Linked DNA regions of Homo sapiens. The protein of the gene in region 3 interacts with the protein of the main gene of each other region in a pairwise test. Each region holds a gene or a part of one and is shown on either strand. Other genes may lie near its edges. The genes, in order: VMP1, STOM, CYB5R3 and TMEM79.

Region 1 (7,740 bases), on a different chromosome or scaffold from region 3:
ATTAAGTGTTCTGAGCACCTTTAAGGTAGGCTAGGCTAAACTACCATGTTTGGTAGGTTAGGTGTATTAAATTTATTTCCAACTTCTATTTCCTTTTCTAAGAGACAGGGTTTCACTCTTTTGTCCAGGCTGGAATACAGTGGAGTGATCATAGCTCACTGCAGCCTCGAACTCCTGAGCTCAAGCAATCCTCCCACTTCAACCTCCCCAGTAGCTGGGACTACAAGCACATACCACCACACACTGCTAATTTAAAAAAAAACTTTTTTTTTTAAGACACAGGGGTTTCATTATGTTGCCCAGGCTGGTCTCGAACTCTGGGCCTCATATGATCCCTCCCACCTCAGCCTCCCATGTAGCTACATTTACAGGCATGAGCCACTGTGCCTGGCTCTCAATTTATGGTACTTTCAATTTATGATGGGTTTATCAGGATATAACCCCACCCTAAGTTGAGAAGCATCTATATATAATTATGATCCCCATTTTTCGGATGTAGAAAAATGAGGTACACAAGTTATAGCTTGCCTAAATTCACCCAGCTCATAAGTGGTCGTCTTAATCCAGAGCCCTTGTTCTTTTTTCTTTTTGAGACAGAGTCTTGTTCTTGTCTCCCATGCTGGAGTGCAATGGCACAATCTCGGCTCACTGCAACCTCTGCCTCCTGGGTTCAAGTGATTCTCCTGCCTCAGCCTCCCAAATAGCTGGGATTACAGACACCCGCCACTACACCGAGCTAATTGTTTGTATTTTTAGTAGAGACGGGGTTTCACCAGGTTGGCCAGGCTGGTCTCAAACTCCTGATCTCAGGTGATCCAGCCACCTCGGCCTCCCAAAGTGCTGGGATTACGGGCGTGAGCCACCATGCCCTGCCGAGCCCTTGTTCTTTTTTTTGGAGACGGAGTCTCACTCTATTGCCAGGCTGGAGTGCAGTGGTGCAATCTTGGTTCACTGCAACCTCCACCTCTGGGGTTCAAGTGCTTCTCCTGCCTCAGCCTCCCAAGTAGGTGGGACTTCAGGCATGTGCTACCACACCCGGCTAATTTTTGTATTTTTAGTAGAGATGGGGTTTCACCATGTTGGCCAGGCTAGTCTCGAGCTCCTGACCTCAGGTGATCCACCCACCTCGACCTCCCAAAGTGCTGGGATTGCAGGCGTGAGCCACCATGCCCTGCCGAGCCCTTGTTCTTAACATTACTATATCAGGCCTCTCCCAGCAGTCTAGATGAGATGATGGTCATTTAGACAACAGTAGTGGGAATGAGAAATAAAAAAAGTGTCTAAGGTACACCTGTCTGATTTAGTGACTGACAGGAAGTCTGGTGGCAAAAGAAAGGGAGAAGTTAATAATGACAGCTAGATTTGAACAAATGGAGAATTTTGGTGAAATACCAGGTTTGAATGGAAAAGATAATGAATTAGTTTTGTTCTGAACAAAAGACATCTCAGAGATATCTAGAAAGAAGAAAAAAAAGGATATATCAGCTTAAAGGACAGAAAGGTCTAGGATATATCAGTTTAAAGTCAGAAAGGTCTGGGCTGGAAATATAGATTTGAGAGACCTTACCATATAATTGAAGTTACTGAAGAGATGGAAGAGTATGAGGCCACTTGGACAAATATGTAGAATGAAGAAAGGACTAAAACATAATCCTGAGGAAATGAACATTAGGAATCAAAGGAGACTGACATGGAGTGGCCAGGAGTAGGAGGGTCACATAGGGTAAGCTGTAGTGCACCTAGTTTCAGTGCTCTTCCACTCAAGTGCCTAAATACGGTGACAGGGCTGCACAGACATAGTATTTATGGTTCTAGTGCCTTTACAGCCCCCACCCCCTAAAAGAGACAAAGACAGAGAATTCTTTTTTTTTTCTTAAGACGGCATCTCACTTTGTCACCCAGGCTGGAGTGCAGTGGCGCCATCTCAGCTCACTGCAACCTCTGCCTCCGGGTTCAAGCAATTCTCCCGCCTCAGCCTCCCACGTACATGGGATTACAGGCACCCGCCACCACACCTGGCTAATTTTTGTATTTTTAGTAGAGACGGGGTTTCACCATGTTGGCCAGGCTGGTCTCGAACTCCTGACCTCAAGTGATCTGCCTGCCTCAGCCTCCCAAAGTGCTGGGATACAGGCATGGGCCACCATGCCTGGCCAAGTTTCTATTTGATGCTTACATATCAGCAGGACTTTTCTTTGATAATCTAACAACCAGACTCCAAACTGAACAAATATGCAATGTCAGCAATTAGGATTCTCTGAAATAATTTCTAGGCTGCAAAGTAACCAAATATCCCATACACTACATTCCGGTACTATCTGGAGAAGGAACTGCTCTACATAGAGAAGCTATTATGTGCTGGATAACATACTAAATCCTTTATATCCATTACCTCATTTATTGTTGCTATGAACACATAAAAAGGAAGATATATTAGCCTCATTTTAAAGATGAGAAATATGAGGATCAAACAGAGAAGTTGCCTTTTTCTTTATTTTTTTTTAAAGAGAAGGGGTCTCCCTCTGTCACCCAGGCTAGAGTTCAGTGGCATGATCATAGCTCGCTACAGCCTCAAACTCCTGGGCTTAAGCAATTCTCCTACCTCAGCCTTCCAAGTAGATGGGACTACAGGTGCATGCCACCACACCCTCCTGATTTTTTAAAAATTTTTTATTTTTGTATGGACTTGGTCTTGCTATGTTGCCCAGGCTGGTCTGGAACTCCTGGCCTCAAGGAGTTGCTTGAGGTCGAGGCAGCAGCATCTCGAGTCCAGTTCAAAACCAATCTGGGCAACCCAGTGAGACCTCATCTTTACAAAAAATTTAAATAATTAGCCAGATGTGGTGCCACATGCCCATACTCCCAGCTACTCAGGGGATAAGGTAGGAGGACACCTCAGGCTGGGAGGTGGAAATTGCAGTGAGCCATGATCGTGCCACTGCACCCCAGGCTGGACAACAATGCAAAACCCTGTCTCCAAAAAAAAAAAAAAACCCAATAAGATCAAAAACAGGACAGTGAAAGTTCCAAAAGTTACCAAGTTTATTTATTATGTCCCATATCTCAATGGAGTGTCTAATCATAAAAATGCTAAAATTAACACATATTTTTGTTCTTTAGGATGTTCTAATCTCATATTAATCTGATCAGATTATCATCTAACTCCTCTAAAACAACATGTCTGTCTCTTTTTCTGTACACTTACGACAAGCGTATCAATAAGCCTAGTGCCTAAGACTAAGGTAAAACAAATAACCATTCTTTGTCTCATAAATAATTCTGGGCAATGACAGCAGAACAAAATAAGTACATCCTATAAAATCTTCTTCTTGGTGCCTTCTAATTCCCCTGCCTCAGTAAACCCATTTCAGTAGTGCTCTTGATCCCATTACCTCCTTCTGCACCATGCTCCACCCGTTAATCTTTTTTTAAGAGACAGGGTCTCACTATGTGGCCCCCTATGTGGCCCAGGCTGTTCTCAAACTCCTGGGCTCAAGCAATCCTCCTGTCTCAGCCTCCCAAAGTGTTGGATTACAGGCTGAGCCACCGCGCCGGGTCTGCAGTTTACAACCGAAAAAAACAAACAAACCTTTCCCAAATCTTCTCTGACCCTTAAGCCACTGCCCCACTTTCCCTGTATAACATATTCCCAGAGTCTAGTATGGTGCCTGGGGTATGTCAGTAAGGATTAATACCTCTCTAGTTAATCTCTTTGTGTGAAAAAGGGGGGAAATTTTTTCTTTCTTTTTTTTTTTTTTCTGAGACGAAGTCTCACTCTGTCGCCCAGGCTGGAGAGCAATGGAGCGATATCGGCTCACTGCAACCTCCGCCTCCCGAGTTCAAGTCATTCTCCTGCCTCAGCCTCCCGAGTAGCTGGGATTACAGGCACGCGCCACCACGCCGGCTAATTTTTGTATTTTTAGTATAGATGGGTTTTCGCCATGTTGGCCAGGATGGTCTCGAACTTCTGACCTCAGGTGATCCGCCCACATCAGCCTCCCAAAGTGCTGGGATTACAGGCGTCAGCCACCGCGCCCGGCCCCAAATTTTCGACTATATTCTTAGAAACCAATTCTTTCCACGCAGAGCTCGACAGCTCGAAACGCTGGGGATATTCATAAGTGCCCAGCTGAGGGTATGAGGCCTGCTCGCTATTTTATCAATTTCGGAGAGAGCGCATCGATACTGCCTGCCTGGAGGCTTTGCTGGGAACTAGAAATTCTGAGTCTTCCCCTCCCCAGCAGCCTGTTCCTTTCCTCCAAAGGACGGTTCGCAGAACAGGAACAGAGGGCTCAGCGGCCCCTGGGCGGAAGACAGTTTATAAAGGAGAAAATGAAGAAGGTGGGTAATGCAACGAGGTGAAAAGAAACGTTCCTACTGGCGAGAAAATGAATAATGATATTGGTCTCCTTCGCCCTGTAAGGAGCCAACCAACCTACCTACAGTACCTCCTTTCCTCACTCGCGCCTTCCCTTCTTCTGGGCAGCGAACACGTTTCTATCGCGTGAGCTACCTCTTCCGGGGTTCCTGGGTGACAAGTTCCGGATCAAGAATCACAAAGCGAGCAGTCATTCTTCCTCTTGCCACACCCACAGGGCCCGCACTAAGAGCCTAACTGAAATCCCGCGAGGATCAACCGAGCTCGCCGAAAGGAGGGAGGAACGTATCCCTTCTGGAGGCTGTCTCAGGGGGCAGAGGGACCGGACCGGAAGTGACGTGAGCGGGTTCCGGTTGTCTGGAGCCCAGCGGCGGGTGTGAGAGTCCGTAAGGAGCAGCTTCCAGGATCCTGAGATCCGGAGCAGCCGGGGTCGGAGCGGGTAGGTAAACTAACTCAGGGAATTGGGGACCGAAGCCTGAGGCTGTCCTCAGAGCTTGGCGTCTTCCGGAGCTCTCCCACTTAGGCATTGCGGATCTGGGGCACTGTGATTCCGACTTCCAGCAGTGTTTTAGGACGCTGCTGACTGGATGTCTCACCCTGGATGTCTCACGCTGGCGGTAGCCAGGTTATTTGGGACACCTTCTCATGGTTGGTCACCCGGACATTGAACCCAGACACCGGGCTGTTCGTTCTCCTCTCCGCGTACTTGGAAGCCTTGCTAGGCTTCTTTAGAGAACCTCTTAGTCCCGGGATGTCCAGGACCTTGGAGTAAGTGGAGAAGGTCTTCCCTGCTGATGACTGAGCTATTTCTCAGGATCTGTCAGTTTGGTTTTTGCTCTCCCGAACCTCTGGCGCATGATGCTAGATGTATTCGCTCCTAAACGAAATCCAGGCGTGCAAGTGCCATCTAAAGCTCTGGTGGTACAGGGTAGCCAAGGGAATGGGCCTTCGCTCCGCAGAGCCCTTGGAGAGGAACTTCTCAGATTTTTCACTGCTTTAATGAAAAAGAGTTGTCTGCCTTTCCAAACCCCTGAACCCCGACCTCTATATCTTATTACAGTGGAGGTATTTGCAGTAAAACGTGAAGGTCGACTTAATCTCTAAAATTCCAGAAACCATATGTGGCCCTGTGTCACACTGCTAGATTACTTATGACCTCCAGAAGATTTTACACAATCATCTTTTATTTACCTGCAACTCCATGTAAAAATCTAATAATACACGTAGACTGGCCACTGTTGATGTGTTTTGGCAGCATCGCTCCTTATCCTAATGTTAACGTCTTTCATTTCTACTTTGGGGCTTGTCAGAGATTTTTGTGGACAGATTACATTGATCATTTGAAGAAGCTTGTACAAGTGTTTCTGGTGTTGTCATGATAGAATTTAATATTCCAGTTGCTACTACCTAGTAATTGTATTGTCATTAGCTCTGATTTTAGTTGTGTATTCTTAGCATAGATGATGAAAGGAAGAAACTTACTTACTAGGCATCATTGTATGCATTGTAGCTTATGTTTTTACTGTGGAAGAGGGATGGTGGTACCTAGACAAATGTGACTGATTTGTGTAGGTATGAAGTGACTCTCTCGAGTAGAAATTTTATATTTTACTACTTTGCCTACATTATCTTAAGGCACTGAAGGTTACTTTTTTCCTTTGAGGGATATATCCTACTTGATTACAATTGATTAATACAGTTTAATTTCTATGAGTCACATTCCAGAAGAAAATATACATAGAACCATGATGCCTTTTACCAGTTTACCTATAGCTAGTTAAATCAGTTTGTCAGTTTACATATTTTTCTTATTTTGAGTTTGAAAATTTGTTCACGCTTGGCTTTGAAACAAGGTGACAAAATTTGAGATATGGAATTATGATAGATGTATCATTAGTTTAACATTCGGTAAATTTGCTTCTTGATTATATAACTGCCAAATCTGATCTTATCTTCTTTATGTTCAATTGAAGGACTGATTATCCAGTTTTTCTCACTTTTCCAACTTCTCGCTTTTGGCTTGAATCACCACTTTTTAGGATTTTGGTAACTATTAAACTTTAAATCAGAAGACCTGGATTGAAGTCTGGGCTCCAACACTTGTTAAGTAATGGCTGATAGGTTACCTAACATTCTGAGCTGGTCTAGATTGTGTTGATAAAAATTCTGCTCACTTTCTTTCATACAACTGTCACAAAGATTAAATGAGCTAGTAAACATGAAATTATTAAATATGAAAATATGGTATCACTTTACTCTTAGAACTGGAGATATGTCAGTGTAGAATACTGTTACTTTGCATCATTATCTGAAAATATTATCACATACTTTTCTGAGATGATCTTTGCCCCACCTTTGAAAGTTAGCAAAGAATAGTTTGATACCGTGATCCATTGAATTAGTCACCATGGTTAATAAATAGGTTCCTGGAAAATGAGTATAGTTTTGCATTCGGGAGTTTAAATCTGATCCTTTTTGGTCGTCATGTATTGTCACTTCAGAACTTCCAAGTGCAGAAAAAGCTGAAGTTTTTTGCCTACGTATAGTTAACTAAAGAGTAGAAGTAGTCCTATCTTACTTACATTAAATAAGAAACCTTATTATTGGGCCGGGCGCGGTGGTTCACGCTTGTAATCCCAGCACTTTGGGAGGCCGAGTTGGGCGGATCACGAGGTCAGGCGATCGAGACAATCCTGGCTAATACAGTGAAACCCTGTCTCTACTAAAAATACAAAAAATTAGCCGGGCGTGGTGGCAGGCGCCTGTAATCCCAGCTACTCCGGAGGCTGAGGCAGGAGAATGGCGCGAACCCAGGAGGCGGAGCTTGCAGTGAGCCGAGATTGCGCCACTGCACTCCAGCCTGGGAGACAGAGCCAGACTCCGTCTCAAAAAAAAAAGAAACATTATTATTTCACTGAAACCAATATTTAGAATTAGAAGGAATCTCTGTGAATGTATAAGTAGATTCCCATTTAACAGAGGAGAAAATTAAGGCTCAGAAACAATCAGTAATTAGTAATTGGCTTGCTTGAGGTCATCTGGCTTAGGTAGTGCTAGAACCTGAACTGTAAGGTCTCAAGTGTTCTTTCTGTTCTAACAAGGTTGTATCCAGGCATCTTATTATGGTTTGGTAATATTTCCAAGTTCACATGAAAATAATTACTCTTAGGTATTAAAGGGATCTATCCACATACACACGTAAATACACACATACGCACATAAGCCTTATTTACAAACTTTTTTTCCCTCTTTAGCTAGTTTAGTCTTATAAATTGTAGCATAACAAAAACTGTGCTTGGCTAGATTTGAAGTGTAATAGATTAAGGAAAGAAAATCAGTTATATTCTTCAGAATAGTTTGTC
Region 2 (7,986 bases), on a different chromosome or scaffold from region 3:
TCCATGCCTTCTTAAAAAAACTGATTTTGAATTCCATCTGTATCACTTTATCAACATCTTTTTTTTCCCTCAAAGATGACTAGGAATCAGTGACTGTCTTTTACTAGGTAAAATTTATACCATCAAATGGCACCAAAAATCTATTTAATCATGAATAAATATGCCAGTTTTGTAGACTTGGTCTTCCATAAGTTAATTTATGACCACTGATGGAATAACTCAGATTAATTATTGAAGAAGTTACAAAGTTCTCTCCAATCTGATTGGCTATAACAACTGAAATAAACAATCAGTCTCCCAAAGGGTTTTATTTGTTGACATGGCTCTTAATTACAGTGATACATTCTTTGCAATTACTTGCATTATTTCATTACAAAGTGAATGCATCGCCTTTAAGAAAAACTAGTCTTGCCCTAGGCCTGGTGCTATTTACCTACCTAGGACTAATTCTCAGTAAAGACAAAGAGGCAGAGTTTAGGCTTTTAAAATTCCACTGCTTCTTTCACAAGCAGCCTTCTGGAAGTCATCACTGAAGCTGTGTTCCTCCAGGCTTTTTTTGTTTATTGTCTCTCAACTTAAGTAAAGTACTGAAGTTAGACAAGGTTCTACATTTTGGTATCCATCTCTGGGATAGGGAAAATGATTCAGAAAATCAGATAGCCGGGGTTTGAAACAGGGCTGAAAATTTTAGAAACTGTGATTTTGCCATGTGAGCCGCAGTATCCTTATTGTGAAATGGTGAATAATGACTTTTTCCTTGTAGAGCTGTTACAGAATGCAATTAGATAATGTTTGTAAAGCACTTAAACTGTCTTTTGGCACAGGGAAAGCATTCAATAACCTCTATTTAATAAATTCCAGCAATACCTTTCCTAGTAGCGTCAAATTTGTTAGGTTTACATTAAAAAAACACAGACTATGCAAAATTTTATTTGTATGTCTAATTTTTGAGAGGAAGTGGTGGTTTTCATTAGATCTTGAAAGATTTCTGTCTAAACAGTAGTTAAGTGTAGAACCAAGGAAAAAAACTGGAAGTTAAAAACTCATCTATGACCACTTGTCTGTAAATAAACATTAAGTACAAAGATCATGTTGATTCTCAAAGAACTCCAAGCAGATTTGCCACTGCAGTTTCCCACCAGGAGGTCAGGGTATTGAGGAATGCATGCTAATACCCACCTTTTTATCTAGGAAAAGACAACTAACTATCGAAGAGGCAGTTACCACCCATTTTTTCCCTATTCAAGTTTTAGAATCAGTCAAATCTAGATTTAAATACAAACTAAGTGACTTTAAGTAATTTAACTTCTTTGACTATCAGTTTCATCAAGTATAATATGGGGATAAGAATACCTACCACATCATCTGTTGTGAAGATTCAATAAAATAATATATACATAAAATACGTGGCACTGGGGGGGTCGCGGTGGCTCATGCCTGTAATCCCAGCACTTTGGGAGGCCGAGGCGTGTGGATCACTTGAGGTCAGGAGTTTGAGACCAGCCTGACCAACATGGTGAAACCCTGTATCTACAAAAAATACAAAATCAGCTGGGCATGGTGGTGCACGCCTGTAATCCCAGCTACTTGGGAGGATGAGGCAGGAGAATCACTTGAACTCGGGAGGCGGAGGTTGCAGTGAGCGGAGATCACACTCCAGCCTGGGCAAGAAAAGCGAAACTCCGTCTCAAAAAAAAAAAAAAAAGTGATACGGAGCCTGACCTATTTAGTTTCAATTTTTGTTGTTGTGGTTGCCATTATTCTCATCAACTCCTCCCTGTTACACTCTCCATTTGGGAAGATAACCTGCAACGTTATTAGTAGACAAAAAGTGAGGAATAAAGATTTCTGTAATTCCTTTGATGCTCCTGGGAAGGAACTGAACACAGGGATCCCTGGACAAGGGAAATGGAACTTATAGCTAAGATGCTGTGGATAAAGCTGGCTTTACAAATAATCAGAATAGATGACTCCAATGTCATGTTCTTTGAGGGGTCCTGGAAAGGACCACCCAGCCCTCTAAATTGCTTTCACTGCCATCCTGCCTGAAATTCCATCTTTAGAAACACTGTAATTCCTCTGGATCACTAAGAGCTCCTGAGTGGGTACCAGGACTCCTGAGAGGTCCACCATCTCTCTTTATTGGAACCCCCTCCCCAGAGTACCAGTTCCTCCACAGGGGAACGAGACTGAGCCACTTACAGCTCCTGCCTTGAAGACTGGGAAGGGAGGGTGGGGGTGAGGGTGGGAGAACTCAGGGTTCCTGGCGAGGAACAAAAGCCGGGAAGGAGAGTTCTCCAAAACGCAGAGGAAAGCGGAGGGGGAAAAATGGGGCAGAAAGTGGAGCTAGAAAGAGAGGTAAGAAGAAAGCCAGAGAGACTTCTTCCTTCTGCAAATCGGTCTAAGTTTCGGGAGGTGGGATTGGGGGAGGAGGGGGTTCACCCTGGGGCCAGGCCAGGGCTGGGTGGAGGAGGCGGCCTTCGAGAGAGTGAGTCGGGAAAGAAGGGGAGTGGGCAAAGGGTGAGATGTGGGGTCCCGGTCCCCGCCTCGCTGGCTGCCAGTTCCCTCTGCGTTTCCTAGTCCGCGTGCGTGACACGAGATAGTGCAGCCCTGGCATGGGGCTTGGCATCTGGCGGCCGCGAGATAACCAGGGCCCGTGCGATGGGAAACGTGCCGTTGGCAGCCCGCCACCCCTCCATCGTGACCTCAGTCTGCCAAACAGGGTTCGTGATGCTCAGTTTACTAGGGAGGAGCCGCGGCTTTGAGATCTCGCCCAGCCCGAAGCAGCGGAGACTGGCCAGGAGCCCGGCTGTCAGACCTCGGAGCGCACGCTGCGGGCGGGGGCTCGGTCCACGGGGGAGGGTCAGGGGACGCGGGACTCACCCTTGAAGGAGTCGGGGAGCCGCTGGGCTTCGGAGTCCCGTGTGTGCCGCTTCTCGGCCATGCTGCCCGAGACGCAGTCGCACTCCCCCGTCCTCGTTGCCAAACCCGGAGCCGCCGGGAATGCCCTGAGGAGCCAGAGGCACAAGACCCAGATTGCCGCCCCGCCCCCAATCGAGGTCCCGCCCTCGTGAGAGTTGGCCAATCAACGCCCAGGATCGAGGAGGACCCACCTCCCAATCCCCGCCCTCCTGTCCCTCCACGGCGCGACTGCTTCGCAGTCACTTCCCGCTAGTTCTGTGGGCTGAGGGGCGTGGCCTGAGGGGCGTGGCCTGAGGGGCGAGAGCCCCCAAGGCTGTGGGTATGAGGCCGGGGCCCTGCACCGGAAGGGAGGGCGGAAGCCACGGGACGTGGAGCAGATGGTGAGGATAGTGGGGAGGTAGCAGCAGAGGATGACCCGAGGCAAAAGTGCAAGTGAAGAAAAGTCGCCTTGCCGGGCAGAGGTACGGGACCAAGGCGCCTCCTCTGGGCTGAGGAGTTAGAGGGAAGAAAATGGCGCCCTGTCATGAGGGCGCGAGGTCCGAGTTGAGGGGAGAAGACTGAGGGACACAGAAGTGGCCGAAGTGAGGGCGCTGAGGTCAGCCTGAGCTGAGAGGGCCGGCAGATCACGCCGCAGCCGAAGTGAACGAACTCGAGTGAGGTGTGTTAAGAAAATCAAAATGTATAAATTTGGAAAAGGAGAGGAGGCCGGGCGCGGTGGCTCACGCCTGTAATCCCAGCACGTTGGAAGGCCGAGGCGGGTAGATCATCTGAGGTTAGAAGTTCGAGACCAGCTTGGCCAACATGGTGAAACCCCGTCTCTGCTAAAAATACAAAAATTAGCCGGGCGTGTGGCGCGCGCCTGTAATCCCAGCTACTTGGGAGGCTGAGGCAGGAGAATCGCTTGAACTTGGGAGGCAGAGGTTGCAGTGAGCCGAGATGGCCTGGGTGACAGAGCGAGACTCCGTCTCAAAAAAACAAAACAAAAAACAAAAAAACAGGAGAGGAGACTTTATTTCTTGTAAGGGGTTACAGCCTGCAAGGTGGCCATTCCGCAGGCTGGAGAATGGCCAGGACCAGAGACAGGCATTTCGTTGGAGGAGGGGTTGGAGTAGCGGCTTTATGCTGAACAGCTTGGGTAGACATGCATATTCAGCAGGTGACAGGAGGAGCTATGAATATTCATGAGGGTGGTCCTGACGCATGCCCATTGAGCAAACATGCATGTAACATACAACCCATGTTCATTTTGGAGTGAAGAGTTACCAATTAAATGTTAAATGCCTGGCCTGCATGGTGACGTCCCCATCTCTACAAAAAGTAAAAAAAAAATAGCCAGGTGGGGTGGTGTGTGCTTGCGGTCCCAACTAGTCAGGAGGCTGGGGCAGGAGGATCACTTGAGCCCAAGAGTTGGAGGCTGCAGTGATGTATGATCAGATCACTGCACTCCAGCCTGATGGACTCTAAAAAATAATAACAATACATGTATTACAGTTAGACCCCATGCGTCAAAAGGTCTTTTCAGGACAGGAAGGTGTGCAAGTATGCAGTCTGTGTAAACTAGCCAGAGCCAGTCCATGGTCGGTAGTTTTCCTATGAGGAGAAAGTTACTGAAATCAGCCTCTTGTCCAATTAAAGCTGTAATGATGGCTGGTGGAATAGGGGTTCCATTAGGCCACATCTGGTGGAGCTGCAAATTGTTTTAATATTGCTTATCTCGAGGCCAGTGCTTGTTAAGCTGCTAGAGAAAGAGAACAACCTTGTGGCAGTTAGAACACAGTTTATTCTCTAAGTGAAGGGATGTGTGCCTTAACCTTTGCCTGGCATGACCTTAGGTATAATTTGTTTATAATTTGGTATCTTATTGTCACAAACAGTCTGTTCTGTCAGTCTTATGATCTGTGTTTTAACGTTAATGCTGGTCAGCTGTTGTGTCTAAACTCCAATACGATGAAGTTATAATGAGGCGAGTCTGACCTTCTGTCCTGTCATTGGCTGGGAACTCAGTTTTAAAGTTTTCTGGAGTCCCCTTGGCCACAAGGGAGTCCATTCAGTCGGTGGGGTCATTTATTCAAACAAAATCTTCTTGGAGCATCTTCCATGTGGCAGGGAGTGTGCTAAGGGCCTCGTGGAGTTTACCTTATACTCTAGTTGGGAGATGGGCCACAAACAAGTAATTGAATCATTACACATGGTGAAGGAAGCTGTGAAAGGAGTGGAATATTCGGAGAACAGCAAAGGTTAGGACAGGGGAACACCTCTGTAAGGAAGGGGCTTTGAGATGTCGCCTGAGAAATGAGAAGGAGCCAGCCTGGGGAAGGGGAATAAGCGGTGCAGGAGGTGGGAAAGGGTATCCCAGGTAGAGGGAAAAGCATGTGCAAGGGCATTCCCAACCTCAGGCCTTCTCTTGGGGTGTGGCTGAAGACCTCATATTTGGAAAGTAGGCTGTGTTTGCATTAGACTTGTTCTATTGCACAATGTTCAAAGTATGTTAATGTACACAAGGTGCACTTATAAAAACATTCGATTTTGAAATAAGTACAGATTCACAGGAATTTGCAACAACAGTACAGAGAGGTCACATGTCCCCTTTACCCAGTTTCCCCCAATAGTTACGTCTTACTTAACTAGAGTATCAAAACCAGGAAATTGACAGTGGCACAAAATGTATTTATAGTTCTGTGCCATTTTAACATGTGTAGATTGATATAACCACAGTAATTGATACAGAACTATTCCATTACCACAAAGATCTCCCTCAGGAGGAGCACTTCTTTCTTAATGTGCTCAATATTTGGCTGTGTACTACCCAACACCTTGTGGTGCTTAGGTCATATGAAATGGTAGACTTTCTCTCTGATTTTACAGCTCTGGAGCTTTGTGACTATCAGGACGGAAACGGGAGCAGACACAACAGGTGTTAAGAGAGGCATTAAGATGATCTTTGCTTGCAGGAACAGGCTCCAGTGTGTGATCAAAACCTGACTCAGAGCTTGCAGTTGACTTTTAGTCAAATACTGGCCAAGAACTGTTTGTATTCCTGGGATGGAGTGCAGCTTGTGCAGTCACTTTGTTAGCCTTCTGGAGAAGATAAGGAGGGGAGTACAGTAATTTAATGATCCCTTCTCTCTAAATCATCCTTGAGAAAGTCCATAGCTTCATTTTTCCATTCTGTAACGAATAAGCCCTGGAGACATAAACTTCCCGTTTATCCTGTCATTCCCAGGAAAGAGGAGCAAATACACAAGAAACTAATTAAACCCTTCGGTAGAGGAGGCCTTGATTACAAATTGCATATTGTGAAAAAGGATTTAGGTTTCATTTTTGTTGGAAAGGAAAATGGTATTTCAAAATGAATTTAATATGTGTACCCCTATCAGTTACCTAAGCCCAAGTCTCAAGACAATCTTAACAGTGTAGTGTCCCTTCTGGAGAATTAGAAGTGTCTCCCTTTGGGGTAAAGACTTTGGTAAACACTTCTTGGCTCTGGTTTCAGATTGCATCAGTTCTAAAACTAATTCCTGGCCCTAAACTAAGAACAAGCTTTGACTTGATTTTTAAACTGCTTTTAGAATAGAGTTTCCAATTTTTTATTTAAATATGCTTACTCTCACTTGCCCATGAAATTGGTGTATTCTGGCTTTCTCGTGCATATTCTGTTATAAATGTATTGATTAAATGTACTTTAAAAATCAATTTCTCACTCTTAAGATTAGAAAAAAACAAATATTAGTACATCCCTTTCTCCTTTTGGAGGATTTTTAATCTTAAATTTTCTCCCAGTAATGATTAGAAGTTAGAATGATTTTTTTTAAAGAACCTTATGGCCAGGCGCAGTGGCTCATGCCTGTATCCCAGAACTTTGGGAGGCTGAGGTAGGCAGATCACTTGAGGTCAGGAGTTTGAGACCAGCCTGGGCAACATGGTAAAACCCCGCCTCTACTGAAAATACAAAAAATTAGCCGGGCATGGTGGCGCATGCTTGTAATCCCAGCTACTTGGGAGGCTGAGGCAGGAGAATTGCTTGAACCCGGGAGGCGGAGGTTGCAGTGAGCGGAGATCATGCCACTGCACTCCAGCTTAGGCAACAGAGTGAGATTCCATCTCAAAAAATAAAATAAAATAAATAAATAAATAACATTATGCTTTTTAAATGGAGACATATAAAATTGTGAGTACTTTGAAGAGAGAATTTCTTATCACCTCTAACAAAACTGCTATTACAATTTTGGTGAATTTTTCCTCTAGTTGTTATTTGAAGGATACTTATATATAGTTTGAAAATCAGAGTAGATGTTCCATATTTCCTTTATTTTTTATTTTTATTTTTTATTTTTTAGATGGAATGTTGCTCTGTCACCCAGGCTGGAGTGCAATGGCATGATCTCGACTCACTGCAACCTCTGCCTCCTGGGTTCAAGCAATTCTTCGGCCTCAGCCTCCCGAGTAGCTGGGACTACAGGCACCTGCCACCACGCCTGGCTAATTTTTTGTATTTTTAGTAGAGACGGGGTTTCACTGTGTTAGCCAGGATGGTCTCGATCTCCTAACCTCGTGATCCACCTGCCTTGGCCTCCCAAAGTGCTGGGATTACTGGCGTGAGCCACCACGCCTGGCCGTTCCGTATTTCCTTTATGTTTTATTTTGCTGTTATTTGCCTAGCATATTCAAGGTACCAAATTAAGTATTGATTGATGGTAATAGTGATAACATTAAGACTTGGAGATCAGGTTAAAGACAGATATGCACCATGAATCCGTAATTGAATAAGACAGAAGGAAATTTAATTAGCCTTTTTCCTGTGTCCATAGCAGTGCTTTAATAAGAACAATAGAAAAGTCTTTTTTTTTTCCTTTAAATTGCTAATCCAGGATGTTTTCGATGCTTTTATGGAAGTCAGCTAACTAAATACCTTGAGAGAACAGCAATACCATCAAATTACATCTGTCTGTGACATTTTCTCTAGGATGGGACTAACAAATTTGATCTGTTTTTTTTTAATATGTATTAATTCACACTTATTGCATTACAACAAGGTTTTTGTCTTCTTAGCTCTTCTCTTTTTCA
Region 3 (7,027 bases):
CCAGCACTTTGGGAGGCCGAGGCAGGTGAATCACCTGAGGTCAGGAGTTGGAGACCAGCCTGGACAACATGGAAAAACCGCGTCTCTACCAAAAATACAAAAATTAGCCAGGTATGGTAGCGGGCGTCTGCAATCCCAGCTACTCAGGATGCTGAGGCATGAGAATCACTTGAACCCAGGAGGCAGAGGTTGCAGTGAGCCGAGATCATGCCACTGGACTCCAGCCTGGGTGACAAGAGCCAAGACTCCATCTCAAAAAAAAAAAATTGAATAAGGCTTGTGGATTAGATAATAGTGTTGTACCAATGTTACTTTCCTGTAATTATTCTGTGGTTACGCAAAGGAATGTCCTTGTTCTTAGGAGATACACACTGAAATATTTAGGGGCAAAGGGGCAACTTACTCTTAAATGGTTCAAAATATAGACACAGTTGACCCTTGAACATGGGTTGGAACTGCTTGATTCACTTTTTTTTTTTTTTGGAATTTCTGACAAATCTTATTTTATTCAGATAGCAGTCTGATCACACCTGGTCCAACAACACTCAAATAATAAATCAAATATAATCAGATGTTAAGACTGGTCTTCAAACATTCTAGCCAATGATGCCACGCTTGCCTGTGATCTCTCTGACATAAAACCACGTCGACACCTCAGTGGCCACCAAACCGTTCAGCAAAGCTTCCTTAACTGTGAGCTGTTTGAAGCTACCAGTCTGAGCACTACTGACTATTTTTTTCAGGCTCTGAATAGCTCTAGGGATCTCAGCAGGGGTGGGAGGAACCAGCTCAACCGTGGTGTAGTACCAAAATGCGGCCAATCGAGGCTTCAAGTAAGTCACAGCAGCATTCACCAGTGCTGGGGTCTTCTCCACAAGGTTACGGACAAATGGAGCCATGGTTCTGGGATGGAAAGTCCATCATCCCGAATGGCCAGCTGAAGGTCACCCCCCGGAAGGACCCTGCGTGGTTCACTTATTTATTTATTTATTTATTTATTTATTTATTTATTTATTTATTTGAGATGGAGTCTCACTCTATCACCCAGGCTGGAGTACAGTGGTGTGATCTTGGCTAACTGTGACCTCCGCCTCCCGGGTTCAAGTGATTTTCCTGCCTCAGCCTCCCGAGTAGCTGGGATTACAGGTGAGCACCACCACGTCTGGCTAATTTTTGTACTTTTAGTAGAGACAATGTTTCGCCATGTTGGCCAGGCTGGTCTTGAACTCCTGACCTCATGATCCACCCACCTCGGCCTCCCAAAGTGCTGGGATTACAGGCGTGAGCCACTGTGCCCGGCCAGGACCCTGAGTGGTTCACTTATACAAGGATCTTCTTCCTCTTCTGTCACCCGAGACAGCAAGACTACCCCCTGCCTCCTCCTCAGCCTTCTCAACGTGAGAACAAGGATGAAGACCTTTATGATGATCCACTTCCTCTTAATGAATAGTAAATATGTTTTCTCTTCCTTATGATTTTTTTTTCTCTTTATTTATTTTTTGAGACGGAGTCTTGCTGTCACCCAGGCTGGAGTGCAGTGGCACGGTCTCAGCTCACTGCAACCTCCAACTCCCAGGTTGAAGCAATTCTTCTGTCTCAGCCTCCCGAGTAGCTGGGATCACAGGCGCACGTCACCACTCCTGGCTCATTTTTGTATTTTTAGTAGAGACAGGGTTTCACCATGTTGGCCAGGCTGGTCTTGAAGTCCTGACCTGGTGATCCTCCTGCCTCGGCCTCCCAAAGTGCTGGGGTTACAGGCGTGAGCCACCACGCCCGGCCCCTTATGATTTTTAAAATAACAGTTTTCTCTAGCTTACTTTACTGTAAAAATATAGTATATAATACATACAATATACAAATATGTTATTGGTAAGGCTTCTAGTCAATAGTATATTAGTAGGAAAGTTTTGGGGGAACCAGAAGTTATACATGGATTTTCTTTTTTTTTTCTTTTATTTAAGACAGATCTGGCCCAGGCTGGAATGCAGTGGCGCGATCTTGTCTCACTCCAACCTCCGCCTTCTGGGCTCCAGCGATTCTCCTGCCTCAACCTCCCAAGTAGCTGGGATTACAGGCGCACGCCACCACACTTGGCTAATTTTTATTTTCTGTTTTGTTTTGTTTTTTTGAGATGGAGTCTGGCTCTGTCACCCAGGCTGGAGTGCAGTGGTGAGATCTCAACTCACAGCAACCTCCACCTCCCGGGTTCAATCGATTCTCCTGCCTCAGCATCCCAAGTGGGTGGGATTACAGGCGCCCACCACCACACCCAGTTAATTTTTGTATCATTAGTAGAGACGAGTTTTCATCATGTTGGCCAGGCTGGTCTCGAACTTCTGACCTCAGGTGATCTGCCTGCCTTGGCCTCCCAAAGTGCTGGGATTACAGACATGAGCCACAGCGCCTGGCCAATTTTTGTATTTTTAGTAGAGCCGGGGTTTTTTCTCATTGGCCAGGCTGGTCTCATCGAACTCCTGACCTCAAGTGATCCACCCGCCTCAGCCTCCCACAGTACTGGGATTACAGGCATGAGCCACTGCACCCAGCCTATACGTGGACTGTCAACTATACAGGTCAGCCCCTAACCCCCATACCATTCAAGGGTCCACTGTATGGATATGCACACATGTAGTATCTAATATATTTAACATACATTAGATATATACTGTATAGAGAGAAATAAAGCAAATGTAGCAAATAATAACATTAGGTACATCTGGGTGAAGAGTACATAAGAGCTCTTTTTTTTTTTTTGAGACAGGGTTTCACTCTATCACCCAGGCTGGAATGCAGTGGCGTGATCTCAGCTCACTATAGCCTTGACCTCTTGTACCCAAGCAATCCTCCCAGCCCAGTCCCCGAAGTAACTGGGGCTACAGGCACGTACCACCAGGCCTTGGTAATTTTTTTGTATTTTTTGTAGAGATGCGGTTTCACCATGTTGCCCAGGCTAATCTCAAACTTCTGAGCTCAAGCCAACAGCCAGCCTCAGCCTTCCAAGTTCTAGGATTGCAGGTATAAGCCCCTGCGTCCAGCCCATAAATGTTCTTTTACAGTAACTTTGAAATTATTATTTTTTTTGAGATGGAGTCTCGCTCTGTTGCCCAGGCTGGAGTGCAGTGGCACGATCTCAGCTCACTGCAAGCTCTGCCTCCTGGGTTCACACCATTCTCCTGCCTCAGCCTCCCGAGTAGCTGGGACTACAGGCGTTCGCCACCAAGCCCAGTTAATTTTTGGTATTTTTAGTAGAGACGGGGTTTCACTGCGTTAGCCAGGATGGTCTCGATCTCCTGACCTCGTGATCCGCCCGCCTCAGCCTCCCAAAGTGCTGGGATTACAGGCGTGAGCCACCTCGCCCGGCCAGTAATTTGAAATTATTTCAAAATAAAAAGTGTGTGAAGCCCATACTGGTAGTTCAACTAGAGAGGCTGAGAAGCCAAAGTTCATATAAAACACTGGCTCTCAAGAAAGCTGTTTCAGAGCTTGTTTATACACCCTCCCCATATACCTCCCTGATTGTAGTTCTCCCAGCAAATGTGCATGTGTGTTCTCTTATCATTACCCTACAAGTTCCCTTTTCACTTTGAGTGCCAGGAAGCTGAGAAACAAGTTCCTTGCATGCGTGCAGGCCTCTCTACTTGCTTTGTGGGACCTGCTACGGGCCCCTTGAGGTAGTATATCCTGCAGAACACAGACAAGTGCCTCTGCTCTATTCAGAGCCAGGTAAGATGCTCCTAACCTCTCAAGGCCTAGCCCCATTGCCCCTCCCCTTCTGGAAACACTACCAGGAGTCCCTACTCTCCAACAATTTGAGGAGGACGCTCTGGTGGAGCCACGTGTCCTGTCTGTAAAAAGCGAGGGCCACTGCCTGGCCTATCTCCTTGAAGCGATGTGAGATGAGATGAGCTGGGGCCCAGGTCACGTAGGGGTCTATAACCTGGGAAGTCCCGGCTCACACACAGGAGCTTTTCCTGCCACCCTCACGGGGCCACTACCAACTGAGAGGAGTGGAATAGCCAAGTGAAGGAAGGGCAGGGTGCTACAACCTCACACCAGGCCTGGCCCCCGCCCCCCCACCCCCCACCCTGCAACGGCCCAGCAGCTCCAAGCTGCCCAGCTACAGTTACAGGTCCTTTGTTGGGCTTAAAACAAAAGGCCTCTCTCCCAGGCAGGGCCTCCATGCTGGGTGCAGCTGAGGCCTCGCTCCATGGGGCCCTTGGTATTTGACCCATGGGTCTAAAGGAAGGGCTGTGGATGCCTAGCCCACCCCTCACCCATGCCCAGGGCCACCCAGCTGGGGTCTCTGGCCACCACCCATTTAATCAGCATGGCCCAGGTGTTTCACTCATCCCAGGCCTCCTTTAAGGCCCCAGTTGGCAGCTGTGGACTTGGGTCAGAGAGACCAGGGTTTGAGTCCCAGCTAAGGATGGCAGGAGAGTCGCTTCACTTCCCCGGGCCCTACCTGGAGGATGGGGAGGGTGGGGAGGAAGGAGGCACACAGCGGTCAGCGCCCCTGAGCTGGCACTGTTCTGAGTAGGGGCCGCGGGTTTCCTGGAATACTCCCCACCTCAACCCTAGGCTGCGGGCACTGTGATCATCCCAGCACGTGAGGAAACTGAGGCCAGGAAAGGGGAGTGACCTGCCCGGAGTACACCAAAGCCAGCCCTCCAAGCATCGCTCACCACATGACACTGTTATCTATCCCTCAGATAGATGAAGTGACCTGCCAAGGTCATATAGCCATTCAGGGTGGGCCGGGAGTGGACTCTCAATGTCCAGCCCAAAGTGCTGCTCTTCCTGAGCCACCTCCCAGGACAGGGGCACTCTTTCTGCTCCAGTCAAAGAGCTCACAGCCCAAATCTGACATCCTGCCTCCCACAGTGAGGCCTGAGCACCTGCCCCCAGCCCCGGGGGTCCGAACCAACAGGCGGCTCCACCCCTCCTCAAATACCCACCATAGCTCCCCACTGCCTACCTGAAGGCACCCTCTCTATGGCCCCAACTCTGGACTCACCTCCCAGCTCTCTGCTCTTTCAACATCAAGCCCATCTTGCTTCAGGCGTTCGCATATGCTCTCCTCTCTGCCCCAAATGTCCTTGCTCTGCATGCATCCAACCAGCAAACTCCTATTCATTCCTCAGAGCCTAGCTCAAACATCAAATCTTCCCTGATGAGCCCTTCCCTAGCTAACCAGGCCCTTGGTAGACTTTTCACAGCCCCTGGTCCCTTCTGGAAACTCCCTGGGGCAAGTACTATTCCGAGGATTCCTCTGCTATCGACCTCTCCCTCAGTCACAGAAACCACGCCCACGTGGAATAGAGTCTAGGGAAAAAGTTGGCCGAAGTTACATTCACAGGAAATCACCATTGTTGGGGGCCCTGGCAATGAACTTGAATGACATTAGGAGCTGGGGTTGTGCTTGGTGCTCCCTGGAGTTCTGTTTTTCCAGCACAGCTGCGTCAGTGCACAGCCCAGCTTAAGGCCCCTCCGCGGGCAGCTGGCTTCACGGGCTGCGAGGCACCTTCCCCCATTTCCTCCCCGGCCCTCCCACAGTGGTGCAAGGTGGGAACAACCAGGCTCCCCGTGTGACAATGAGGGGACAAATGTAGCTCAAGGAGGCCCAGGGTGGAGCCTGGTTTCTGATTTTCTGTTGCTTTCCCACTTCCCTCCCTTGCCCTAAACCTAAACCCATGGAAGTGAGCCTGGGTGGGCGCTGGGCCAAGAAAAAGACACCCGCGTATTAGTGGCTCCGATGGCAAGTCCCCGAATGCTGGCCTCCAACCCCAGGCTGCCGGCTCCCCACAAGTCTCCAGAAGTGGCCCTGGAGCAGACCGCAGGATCTGTGTCTGTCGTCACCACTGTATCCCCAACACTCCACACAGAAAGCACTCAACAAATATTTGTGGAATGAATTAGTGAAGGGACAACAGGCTCCCACCCTCCCAGTGTTTTTATTTTGCCTAGAAGTTTCCAGAACCAGGACAAGAGCCCAGACTCCTGGATGAGGGCGCGGCACAGCCTGTCCTGTTTGTCAGAAAAGCCCGCTTGTCCTCCAAGAGCACAGGCCTCAGAGGTGGGCTTAGGATCCGGCTCCAGGCTGTTTCCACGCCTGTTCCACACTCAGAGAGGACATACGCAGCTCCCGTGGCTGAGCTGGGAGTCAAGCACTGCTCAGAAGGCCAGGCTCGCCGTGGGCAGCAGATGAGAGTCAAGGACCTTCCTTCCAGTGTCTGCTCCCAACAACAGGGGCTGCCCGGAGCCAGGCGGGCAGCCTCTGCTCACGCCACCTCATTCAGTCCTCAAGCCTGTTCATGACTCCTCCCACTTCAGGTGAGGAAACCAAGCCTCAGGGGACAGACTTGAGCCCGGGGACACTTTCTGGCCACTAAAGAGAAGGGGTGGGCTTTTTATAGGTAAAAGTTCTTATCTGGGGAGGCAGCCACAGGCAGACCATCACCGTCGGTCAGTCGTTTAGTCCACAAACCCCAGTGGGCACTGAGGTGGCAGGTCCCATGTGCAACGCAGGGGACACAGGCCAGGAGGCCCCGCCCGAGTTCAAGCCAGACGGGGAGACAGACACCGGCAGAGAGGGCGCACCACAGCCAGGAGCAGTGGAGGGGCGAAGGTTTCACCTCCAGAAAGCCAGAGGCCCTGCCAGACTCACACGGTGGGGTGCACTCTCTTCCTACCCACACGGGTTGGAACAGGCTCTGCCCCGTCCTCGTCCACAGCACCACCCCAACCCTCACCAGCAGTGGGCCAAGTAAACAGAAGGCAGGTGGCTGAGGCCAAGGTCCCACCCCTGTGCCTCCTCACCTGTGCTGCGTGCACACTCACACACACACTCACACACACAGACCACCTCACCCCAGCCACCTGGGGGCCCAGGAGACAGCTGCCTCCCAGCCCCTGACCTAATGCCCACAAGCCATGCTCTGCCCCACCAGGGAACCCATCACCCGCCTCTCCTTGCCTCTAATAACACAGAGGGGAAGAGGGACACAGGGTGCCAGAGTCCCAGGGAGCC
Region 4 (7,151 bases), on a different chromosome or scaffold from region 3:
CCAAGAAGTCCCAGAGGTAGGTCTCATATCTGGAAGGGTAAAACCCAGAGGACATCAGGCAGGAGCTATAAGAACATGTGAATCAGGCACAACTGTGGACACAAAAGCAACAAAAACAGAGTGAAGATTCCCAAACAAACCAAGACGTGCTCCCGGGCCAGGAAAAGTGGGCCACAACAGTTGGCACCCTGTGGTGGTGGTGGCTCAGGAGGCACACTACTAAGCTGCCCTACACAGGGTGAAGTGACTGCCAGCACCCAGCAGAGTAGGTGGGATGGTAATCGATACCTTCTCACAAGCAATCATGTTTCTTCAAACTGGACAGCCTAGAGATGGATGCCAAGCCCTTTTGGCCAACCTGGCCCTCGATGCCAGGGGCAGCACCAGTGATTTACTTTATACCAGCTCAGTCCCTAGGGCAGGGCTTTTATCTTTGGTGCCATGGAAAGAGCTAATGGGAGTGTATATTTTTATAGACAAGCTCCACAGCTCTCCTTATATCCTTAATCCAAAAGAAGGTAAATAACCACCACTCTAGGAAGTTCTAATTGAAAACGCTTAAATATGAGAGGGCTCACCACTTTTTTCTCATTTTCCATCAGATCATAAGCTCCTCCACTAAACTATAATCTCTCTTAGAACAAAAACTACAAAATCTAGCCGTGTGTTTCATTCACTATTGTACTCTCGGGCCTAGCAAAAACAAAAATGTTTTTAAAAACAAATAACTAATGAATTGGCCTAATTAATTAATTGGTGCTTCCAGGCTCCTTTCTCCTGCTGCCCTTTCTTCTGACTTAAAATATTTCAGAATTTCATATCCGTAAACAGCTAGGTGTGAGAGTTCCCCAAATTTCTGAAGCTCAGAGTGACAAGTCCATAGTCTAACAACACATTTATCTTGAGCAGAGAAATCAGACTTTCCTCCTAGTTCCTTCCACTGATCACCACTGCTATAATAAATTATAAAAACAGTGATTGGCTGCCTCAAATTTCTACCCTGCTCAAAGCCAACAACACAATTACAGGCAGATACCCATGTGCACACAGGTAAGCCACACAGGCAAACACATCAGCTTAGGTTAGTCCTGTGAATGTAGTGGTTTAAGAAAGAACTACATTTGATGACAACTGGAAGGATGACCAGAGCCATCCCCAAAAGCTGGAGACAAGGAATATTGCAGACACTGCCCACGCTCTGTCTGACAGGCAGCACTGACACTCGGCAGCATGATAAGGCACACGTGCCACCCCCAGCCAACTCCTCACCCGCCTGGGGACTGCTTGGGGCAGCCCATAGTGGGAGCCCTGGGGCCGCTAGATTGAATCACTTTTCTATTTTTGGAGCAGCCTATACTCCCCTCTGCCTCTGGCTTACAAAGCCAGAGAAGGCAGGATGCCTACTCAAAGAGAAAAAGACAACATGCTCTTGACTCTTTCACCGCCAAAATGTGGCCAAGGCTCTGAGGGTCGTCTTCTCATGCAAATATCCGTGTTCTATAAAGCCTGAGCTAAATGAAAACCCCAAACTCTACTCTGTAGTAGAAGGCACAAAACTCAGTTTCCACGCTTCATCCTATTTTGACCCAGTTGCGGAGCCCATGTTCCAGTTGACCTACCCAACAAATTCTCCACCTTTGATGGGAAGAGCTCATTCGGGCCTGTTGCCAACAGAGGGCTGAAGGGCTGAAGATGTGACTTGTGGAGCGTGGGTGGCATTATGGAAATCAGAAACCAGGAACGGAAGTTGCCTGGCAAGAGACTACAGTCATGAGGCTGGGAGGAAGGCAGGACTCAGGAGTCCCCAGGTGCCCGGAATTGCCTCCCAAATCCCAAGAACGCTCTGGACACAAAAGTCGTTCGTGACCCTTCCAGGCCAAGACTTTCTCATTCGGACTCCTCAAAATTAGAGCCGTATGGGACTTTAGAGCACATCCAATTCAAATCGTTCTTTTTAAGGATAAGGAAACTGAGGCCCAAGGTCACACCGTGAGAGAGTGGCAAAGGATGGACCTGAACCTAGCTCCACGGACTTCAGTCCAAGACTCTTCCTTGTAAATCCCCCAGGATTCCAAGCACCGTTCCCTTCCGGGTTTTTCTACACCTGTGACCCCACCTTCACCTACCCAACCCTTCCAGCCTTCAATTCCCACCCTATTACCCCAACTCCACCAAGCTTAGTGCCCGCCCCAAGAAAGCTCACTGCAGAGGGGATTCCTCCACGTGCTTCCCTCCAAACCTCCCACCTACCCAATTCCTCCTTTCAGTTCCATCCCGAGTTACTACGGGACCCCGCCCCGCCTCCAAAATTGCACCCTCCTTCCTCACCCGCACCTCACCCCGACACCCGGGCCCCGCCCGCCCGGGAGGCCCCGCCCCTCGCCGTCTCCCCACTTCCCTCGGTGGCTGCTCTCACGCCCTGGCCCCTCTCACCGGTAAAGCCGCTTAGTGTGGAGGACTTTTGCTTCGGGCTCGCTGCTCTCCCCTGTGGGGGGGCCTTGGCTCATGGTGCCCGGGTCCGGGGGCAGCTCCCGGTCACAGGCCCCTGCCACCCACCACTACCGCCAACACTGCCGTCTCCGGCCGTAGCCGCAGCCGCCGCCGCCACCGGCCCTGCTCGGCCGCCATCGCTGTGAGGCGGCTGCCCGCGACAGCTCCTCCTCCGCCTGCCAAATCTCGCGATGGCAGCCGCACAGTTGCGGACCAGTGGCCTGCTGCTACCAAATCTCGCGAAACTCGTTTTCCCTCCCGGGAAGTTGCCAGAACTAACTCTGGGCAGCATGGCGTCTTTCCGGCTTCTCCAAACCCTTGCGAAAAACTTTATTGGCAAAGCTATCAGAGAACGGACAGTGTACCCACTGAGGCGGCCAAAGCTTAACTGGATCAGGGCAGGTGAGCTTACAGCTAGGAGCGTGACTGCTTTGTCCTACAATGGTCATTTGGTCCATCCTTCTGCCCCTTTCCCGCCTCCCCGTTTGAGCCAAGCCTCTTTCAGATTACTGGTTAGAGTGACTCCAGCTTTCCCTTTTCCCCCATAATTTAAACAAACAAAAAGTGCATGTGAAAGTTTCCTTGGAAAGGGCCGAGCATCACATAGGAGTAAAGCCCCGGAAGAAATGACTTGTACAAGCGTCTCGGCCCTTCAGCTCCCCTCCCAAAGATTTCCAGCTTGCATATCTATCTCTTACGAGCCAGTAACATTTATTGAACTGCCATCTTCCAGCCACAGTGCAAGATTCTAGACACACAGAGGTGAGCAAGCTAGACACTATCCCTGCCCTCCCAAAGCTCAAATGATTTTAGGGATAAGGACTCATAGAAATGAGAAGCTAGTCCCTAACGTTTCTATCTCCTAATCCTCACATTGGAAATCAGGGCAGGTGGGCTTACAGCTAGGAGCGTGACTGCTTTGTCTTGTTTTAGCTTAAAACCTAAGTTAAAAAGCAAGGGTGGTTTGTTTTGTTGTTGTTGTTTTTGCCTGTGTATGAATTGTAATGAGAACATAAATTGCCCTTCTACCACTATGCTCCTGGCTGCAGCCACCCACCTTCTTTCTGTTCCTGAAACAGCCTAAGTCTTTCCCATCCATTGGTCTTTCACTTGCTGTTCCTCTGTCTGTAACACTCATACTCCTGATTTCCCATCAGGTTTCAGCTCAAATATTACCTTACCAAAGAGGTCTTTCCTATTAAAATTGTCTAATTGATTTAGTTGCTAGGCTTCTTCATTATGTTACCCCAATAGAACATAAGCTTCTCAAGGGCAGAGACCTCAACTGTCATCTTGTTCTCTTCTGTGTCTGCCTAGCTAATAATTGGTGTCCAGTAAGTATTTACTGAATGAATAAGTGTACAAATTCCATTTCTGGGTATCCCAGCCTACTCCGAGCACCCTTTGTTGCACAAATCCACTTTTCTCCCTCTGCTTTCCTGAGCTGGGAGTTCTTACGCATTCCAGGTGCCTAGAATGTGAACTTACCCCTTTGCCCAGCTGCATCCCAACTTTCAGAAAGGATGACATCCTCCTCTGATGCTTTTTTTTGTCGGCAGATTCAGCAGGGCGGGGCCTGCCCCTTTAAGCTGGGCCCCACCTGCTCTGGTCAGACAGGTTTTGAGACACAGGTAAAGGGAGGGAGACAGAGAGAAATACTTGCAGAGCCAGCAGGTAGCTGGGCAGCTCCTTCCCGGACGGACGGATGGACAGACGCTGGGGACCCTCCACTCCATATGGAAAGTAAGAGGATGTCATGGGTCCAAACTGCAAGGTTTGGAGTGCCCTTGAGATAAAGGAAGGGAATCAGTCCCATCCAGAAGCAATGAGATGGAGGGCAGCAGGGAGGAGAGAAAGACAGGAGAGAAGGCATAGAAAACAGCCATGATCAGACCTAAATATCAGAATAGCAGACCCAGGCCCTGCAGAGATGGATGAGGTGGGCTAGTGAGGAGTTTGGGAACTGACCAAGTACCAGTGAAGGAAGAGGGTGCCTGGAACTGCCAGCTCTTTGGGTCAGATCAGTTGGCAAATCACTGGTCTCACTTGGAATGCAGGAGGGTTCCAAGCAGGGATGTGTAGGGATGGGACAGTGGAGAGGAAGCTTCTCTGTCTACAGCAAGATCCTCAGTGGGAAAGAAACTTGGCAAAGTTCTAGACACCTCTTCTGCCTCCTATTCCTGCATTAGAGTGGCCATGACTCCAGGGGTTTTGGTGGAGGGGCATAGAAGGCGTGGGTGGAGGCTGACTGAGTTCACAGCTGCCAGGGCCTGTGTCCCTTGACTCACCCTCTCCTGTTGGACGGCATTTGATGTCGAAAGGGTGCCTCCATTTCAGCTGCTCACTTCCTTCCCTCCTCCCTCTGTTTCAGTGTCTTCCTCTGTACCACGTTCTCCCTAAGGCTCCAGAAGGGGCCAAAACCCATGAAGCCAGTTGCCCTGGAGAGTATGAGTTCTGTCAACCTGTCCTAATAACTAGAAGACAGGGGTTTCTGACAGAGCTTTCCTCTGTTCCCTGCAGGATGACATGACCTTGTGGTAGATCCCAGAACTGAGGCCCCAGGATGACAGAACAGGAGACCCTGGCCCTACTGGAAGTGAAGAGGTCTGATTCCCCAGAGAAGAGCTCACCCCAGGCCTTGGTTCCCAATGGCCGGCAGCCAGAAGGGGAAGGTGGGGCCGAATCCCCGGGAGCTGAGTCCCTCAGAGTGGGGTCTTCAGCTGGATCTCCCACAGCCATAGAGGGGGCTGAGGATGGTCTAGACAGCACAGTAAGTGAGGCTGCCACCTTGCCCTGGGGGACTGGCCCTCAGCCCAGTGCTCCGTTCCCGGATCCCCCTGGCTGGCGGGACATTGAACCAGAGCCCCCTGAGTCAGAACCACTTACCAAGCTAGAGGAGCTGCCCGAAGACGATGCCAACCTGCTGCCTGAGAAAGCGGCCCGTGCCTTCGTGCCTATTGACCTACAGTGCATTGAGCGGCAGCCCCAAGAAGACCTTATCGTGCGCTGTGAGGCAGGCGAGGGCGAGTGCCGAACCTTCATGCCCCCCCGGGTCACCCACCCCGACCCCACTGAGCGCAAGTGGGCTGAGGCAGTGGTGAGGCCGCCTGGCTGTTCCTGTGGGGGCTGCGGGAGCTGTGGAGACCGTGAGTGGCTAAGGGCTGTGGCCTCCGTGGGAGCCGCACTCATTCTCTTCCCTTGCCTACTATACGGGGCATATGCCTTCCTGCCGTTTGATGTCCCACGGCTGCCCACCATGAGTTCCCGCCTGATCTACACACTGCGCTGCGGGGTCTTTGCCACCTTCCCCATTGTGCTGGGTGAGCCTGTGAGAAGAAAGGGGGCATCGGGAAGTGGACTTGAGGAGGGCAGGGCCTGGCTGGTGTGGGGAGCAGGAGGATTTCCCTTCACTTGACCTGGGCCCCTCAGGGTCTCCCACCCCCTGCCAGTCTGCATGCCCATCTCCTCCCAGGACCACCTCCACCCCACTGTGTAGAGCCCATGCACTGCCCACAGTGAATCTGCCCCCAGCTTACTGCCTCTTGTGCCCTTCCCCTGCCTTTTCTGACCCTACCCTGTTTCCCAACTCCACCCAGGGATCCTGGTGTACGGGCTGAGCCTGTTATGCTTTTCTGCCCTTCGGCCCTTTGGGGAGCCACGGCGGGAGGTGGAGATCCACCGGCGATATGTGGCCCAGTCGGTCCAGCTCTTTATTCTCTACTTCTTCAACCTGGCCGTGCTTTCCACTTACCTGCCCCAGGATACCCTCAAACTGCTCCCTCTGCTCACTGGTCTCTTTGCCGTCTCCCGGTAAGTTGGGGCAGAGGGTGGGGCATGGGAGAGGGGATGGTGCTAGAGAACCTAGGCATCTGAATGTCTGGAGAGCCAGGGTCAGGAGCTTTCCGGATTCTACACTGGCCCAAATGTGTGCCCTGGGGAGATAAGTCCACCTTCTCTCTTGCACCTTACCTCAGCTGGTCAGCAGATGGAAGCCGATTTCAGAGACATATATAACCATATGGAACAAGAAGGCTTTCAGGTGTCATCTAGATCAATGCACCCATTGCAGCCACTCCTGTGGCAATCTGGTCAGGTAGCTGTTTTGGTCTCTGGTTGAACACCCCCTGTAACCAAATGTACAACTTAAAAATAGATATATTTTTTCAAAATAGAGACAAGGCTGGGTGCAGTGGCTCATGCCTGTAATCTCAGCACTTTGAGAGGCCGAGGTGGCAGATCACTTGAGGTCAGGAGTTCGAGACCAGCCTGGCCAATATGGTGAAACCCTGTCTCTACTAAAAATACAAAAATTAGCTGGGCATGGTGGTGCACACCTGTAGTCCCAGCTACTGAGGAGGCTGAGGCAGGAGAATCGCTTGAGTCCAGGAGGTGGAGATTGCAGTGACACAAGATCGTGTCACTGTACTCTAGCCTGGACGACAGAGCTAGACTTCATCTCAAAAAAATAAATAGCCGGGTGTAGTGGCTCACGCCTGTAATCCCAGCACTTTGGGAGGCTGAGGTGGGTGGATCACAATGTCAGGAGCTCGAGACCAGCTTGGCCAACAAGGTGAAACCCCAGGTCTACTAAAAATACAAAAAATTAGCCGGGTGTGGTGGTGGGCATCTGTAATCCCAGCTATTCAGGAGGCGGAGGCAGG

What was found.
Region 1: the proteins of CYB5R3 (region 3) and VMP1 interact in binary tests that used the Homo sapiens proteins (3 or more experiments, as listed by UniProt).
Region 2: the proteins of CYB5R3 (region 3) and STOM interact in binary tests that used the Homo sapiens proteins (3 or more experiments, as listed by UniProt).
Region 4: the proteins of CYB5R3 (region 3) and TMEM79 interact in binary tests that used the Homo sapiens proteins (3 or more experiments, as listed by UniProt).

Annotation. Positions count from the first base shown.
Region 1 is NC_000017.11:59,702,932-59,710,671, forward strand, and holds the start of VMP1 (vacuole membrane protein 1), read left to right. Parts: upstream 1-4,722; 5' UTR 4,723-4,817; exon of another isoform or gene 4,818-5,146; intron 5,147-7,740. UniProt on the Homo sapiens protein: Phospholipid scramblase involved in lipid homeostasis and membrane dynamics processes. Has phospholipid scramblase activity toward cholesterol and phosphatidylserine, as well as phosphatidylethanolamine and phosphatidylcholine.
Region 2 is NC_000009.12:121,367,244-121,375,229, forward strand, and holds the start of STOM (stomatin), read right to left. Parts: upstream 3,008-7,986; 5' UTR 2,945-3,007; coding exon 2,884-2,944; intron 2,724-2,883; exon of another isoform or gene 2,650-2,723; intron 1-2,649. UniProt on the Homo sapiens protein: Regulates ion channel activity and transmembrane ion transport. Regulates ASIC2 and ASIC3 channel activity.
Region 3 is NC_000022.11:42,639,376-42,646,402, forward strand, and holds part of CYB5R3 (NADH-cytochrome b5 reductase 3), read right to left. Parts: intron 5,252-7,027; exon of another isoform or gene 5,135-5,251; coding exon of another isoform or gene 5,015-5,134; intron 1,227-5,014; exon of another isoform or gene 900-1,226; coding exon of another isoform or gene 597-899; exon of another isoform or gene 428-596; intron 1-427. Other genes in the region: ATP5MGL (ATP synthase subunit g 2, mitochondrial), read right to left, coding at 597-899. UniProt on the Homo sapiens protein: Catalyzes the reduction of two molecules of cytochrome b5 using NADH as the electron donor.
Region 4 is NC_000001.11:156,280,174-156,287,324, forward strand, and holds the start of TMEM79 (transmembrane protein 79), read left to right. Parts: upstream 1-4,151; 5' UTR 4,152-4,233; intron 4,234-5,010; 5' UTR 5,011-5,053; coding exon 5,054-5,810; intron 5,811-6,086; coding exon 6,087-6,300; intron 6,301-6,459; exon of another isoform or gene 6,460-6,614; intron 6,615-7,151. Other genes in the region: nonsense-mediated mRNA decay factor SMG5, read right to left, coding at 2,434-2,507.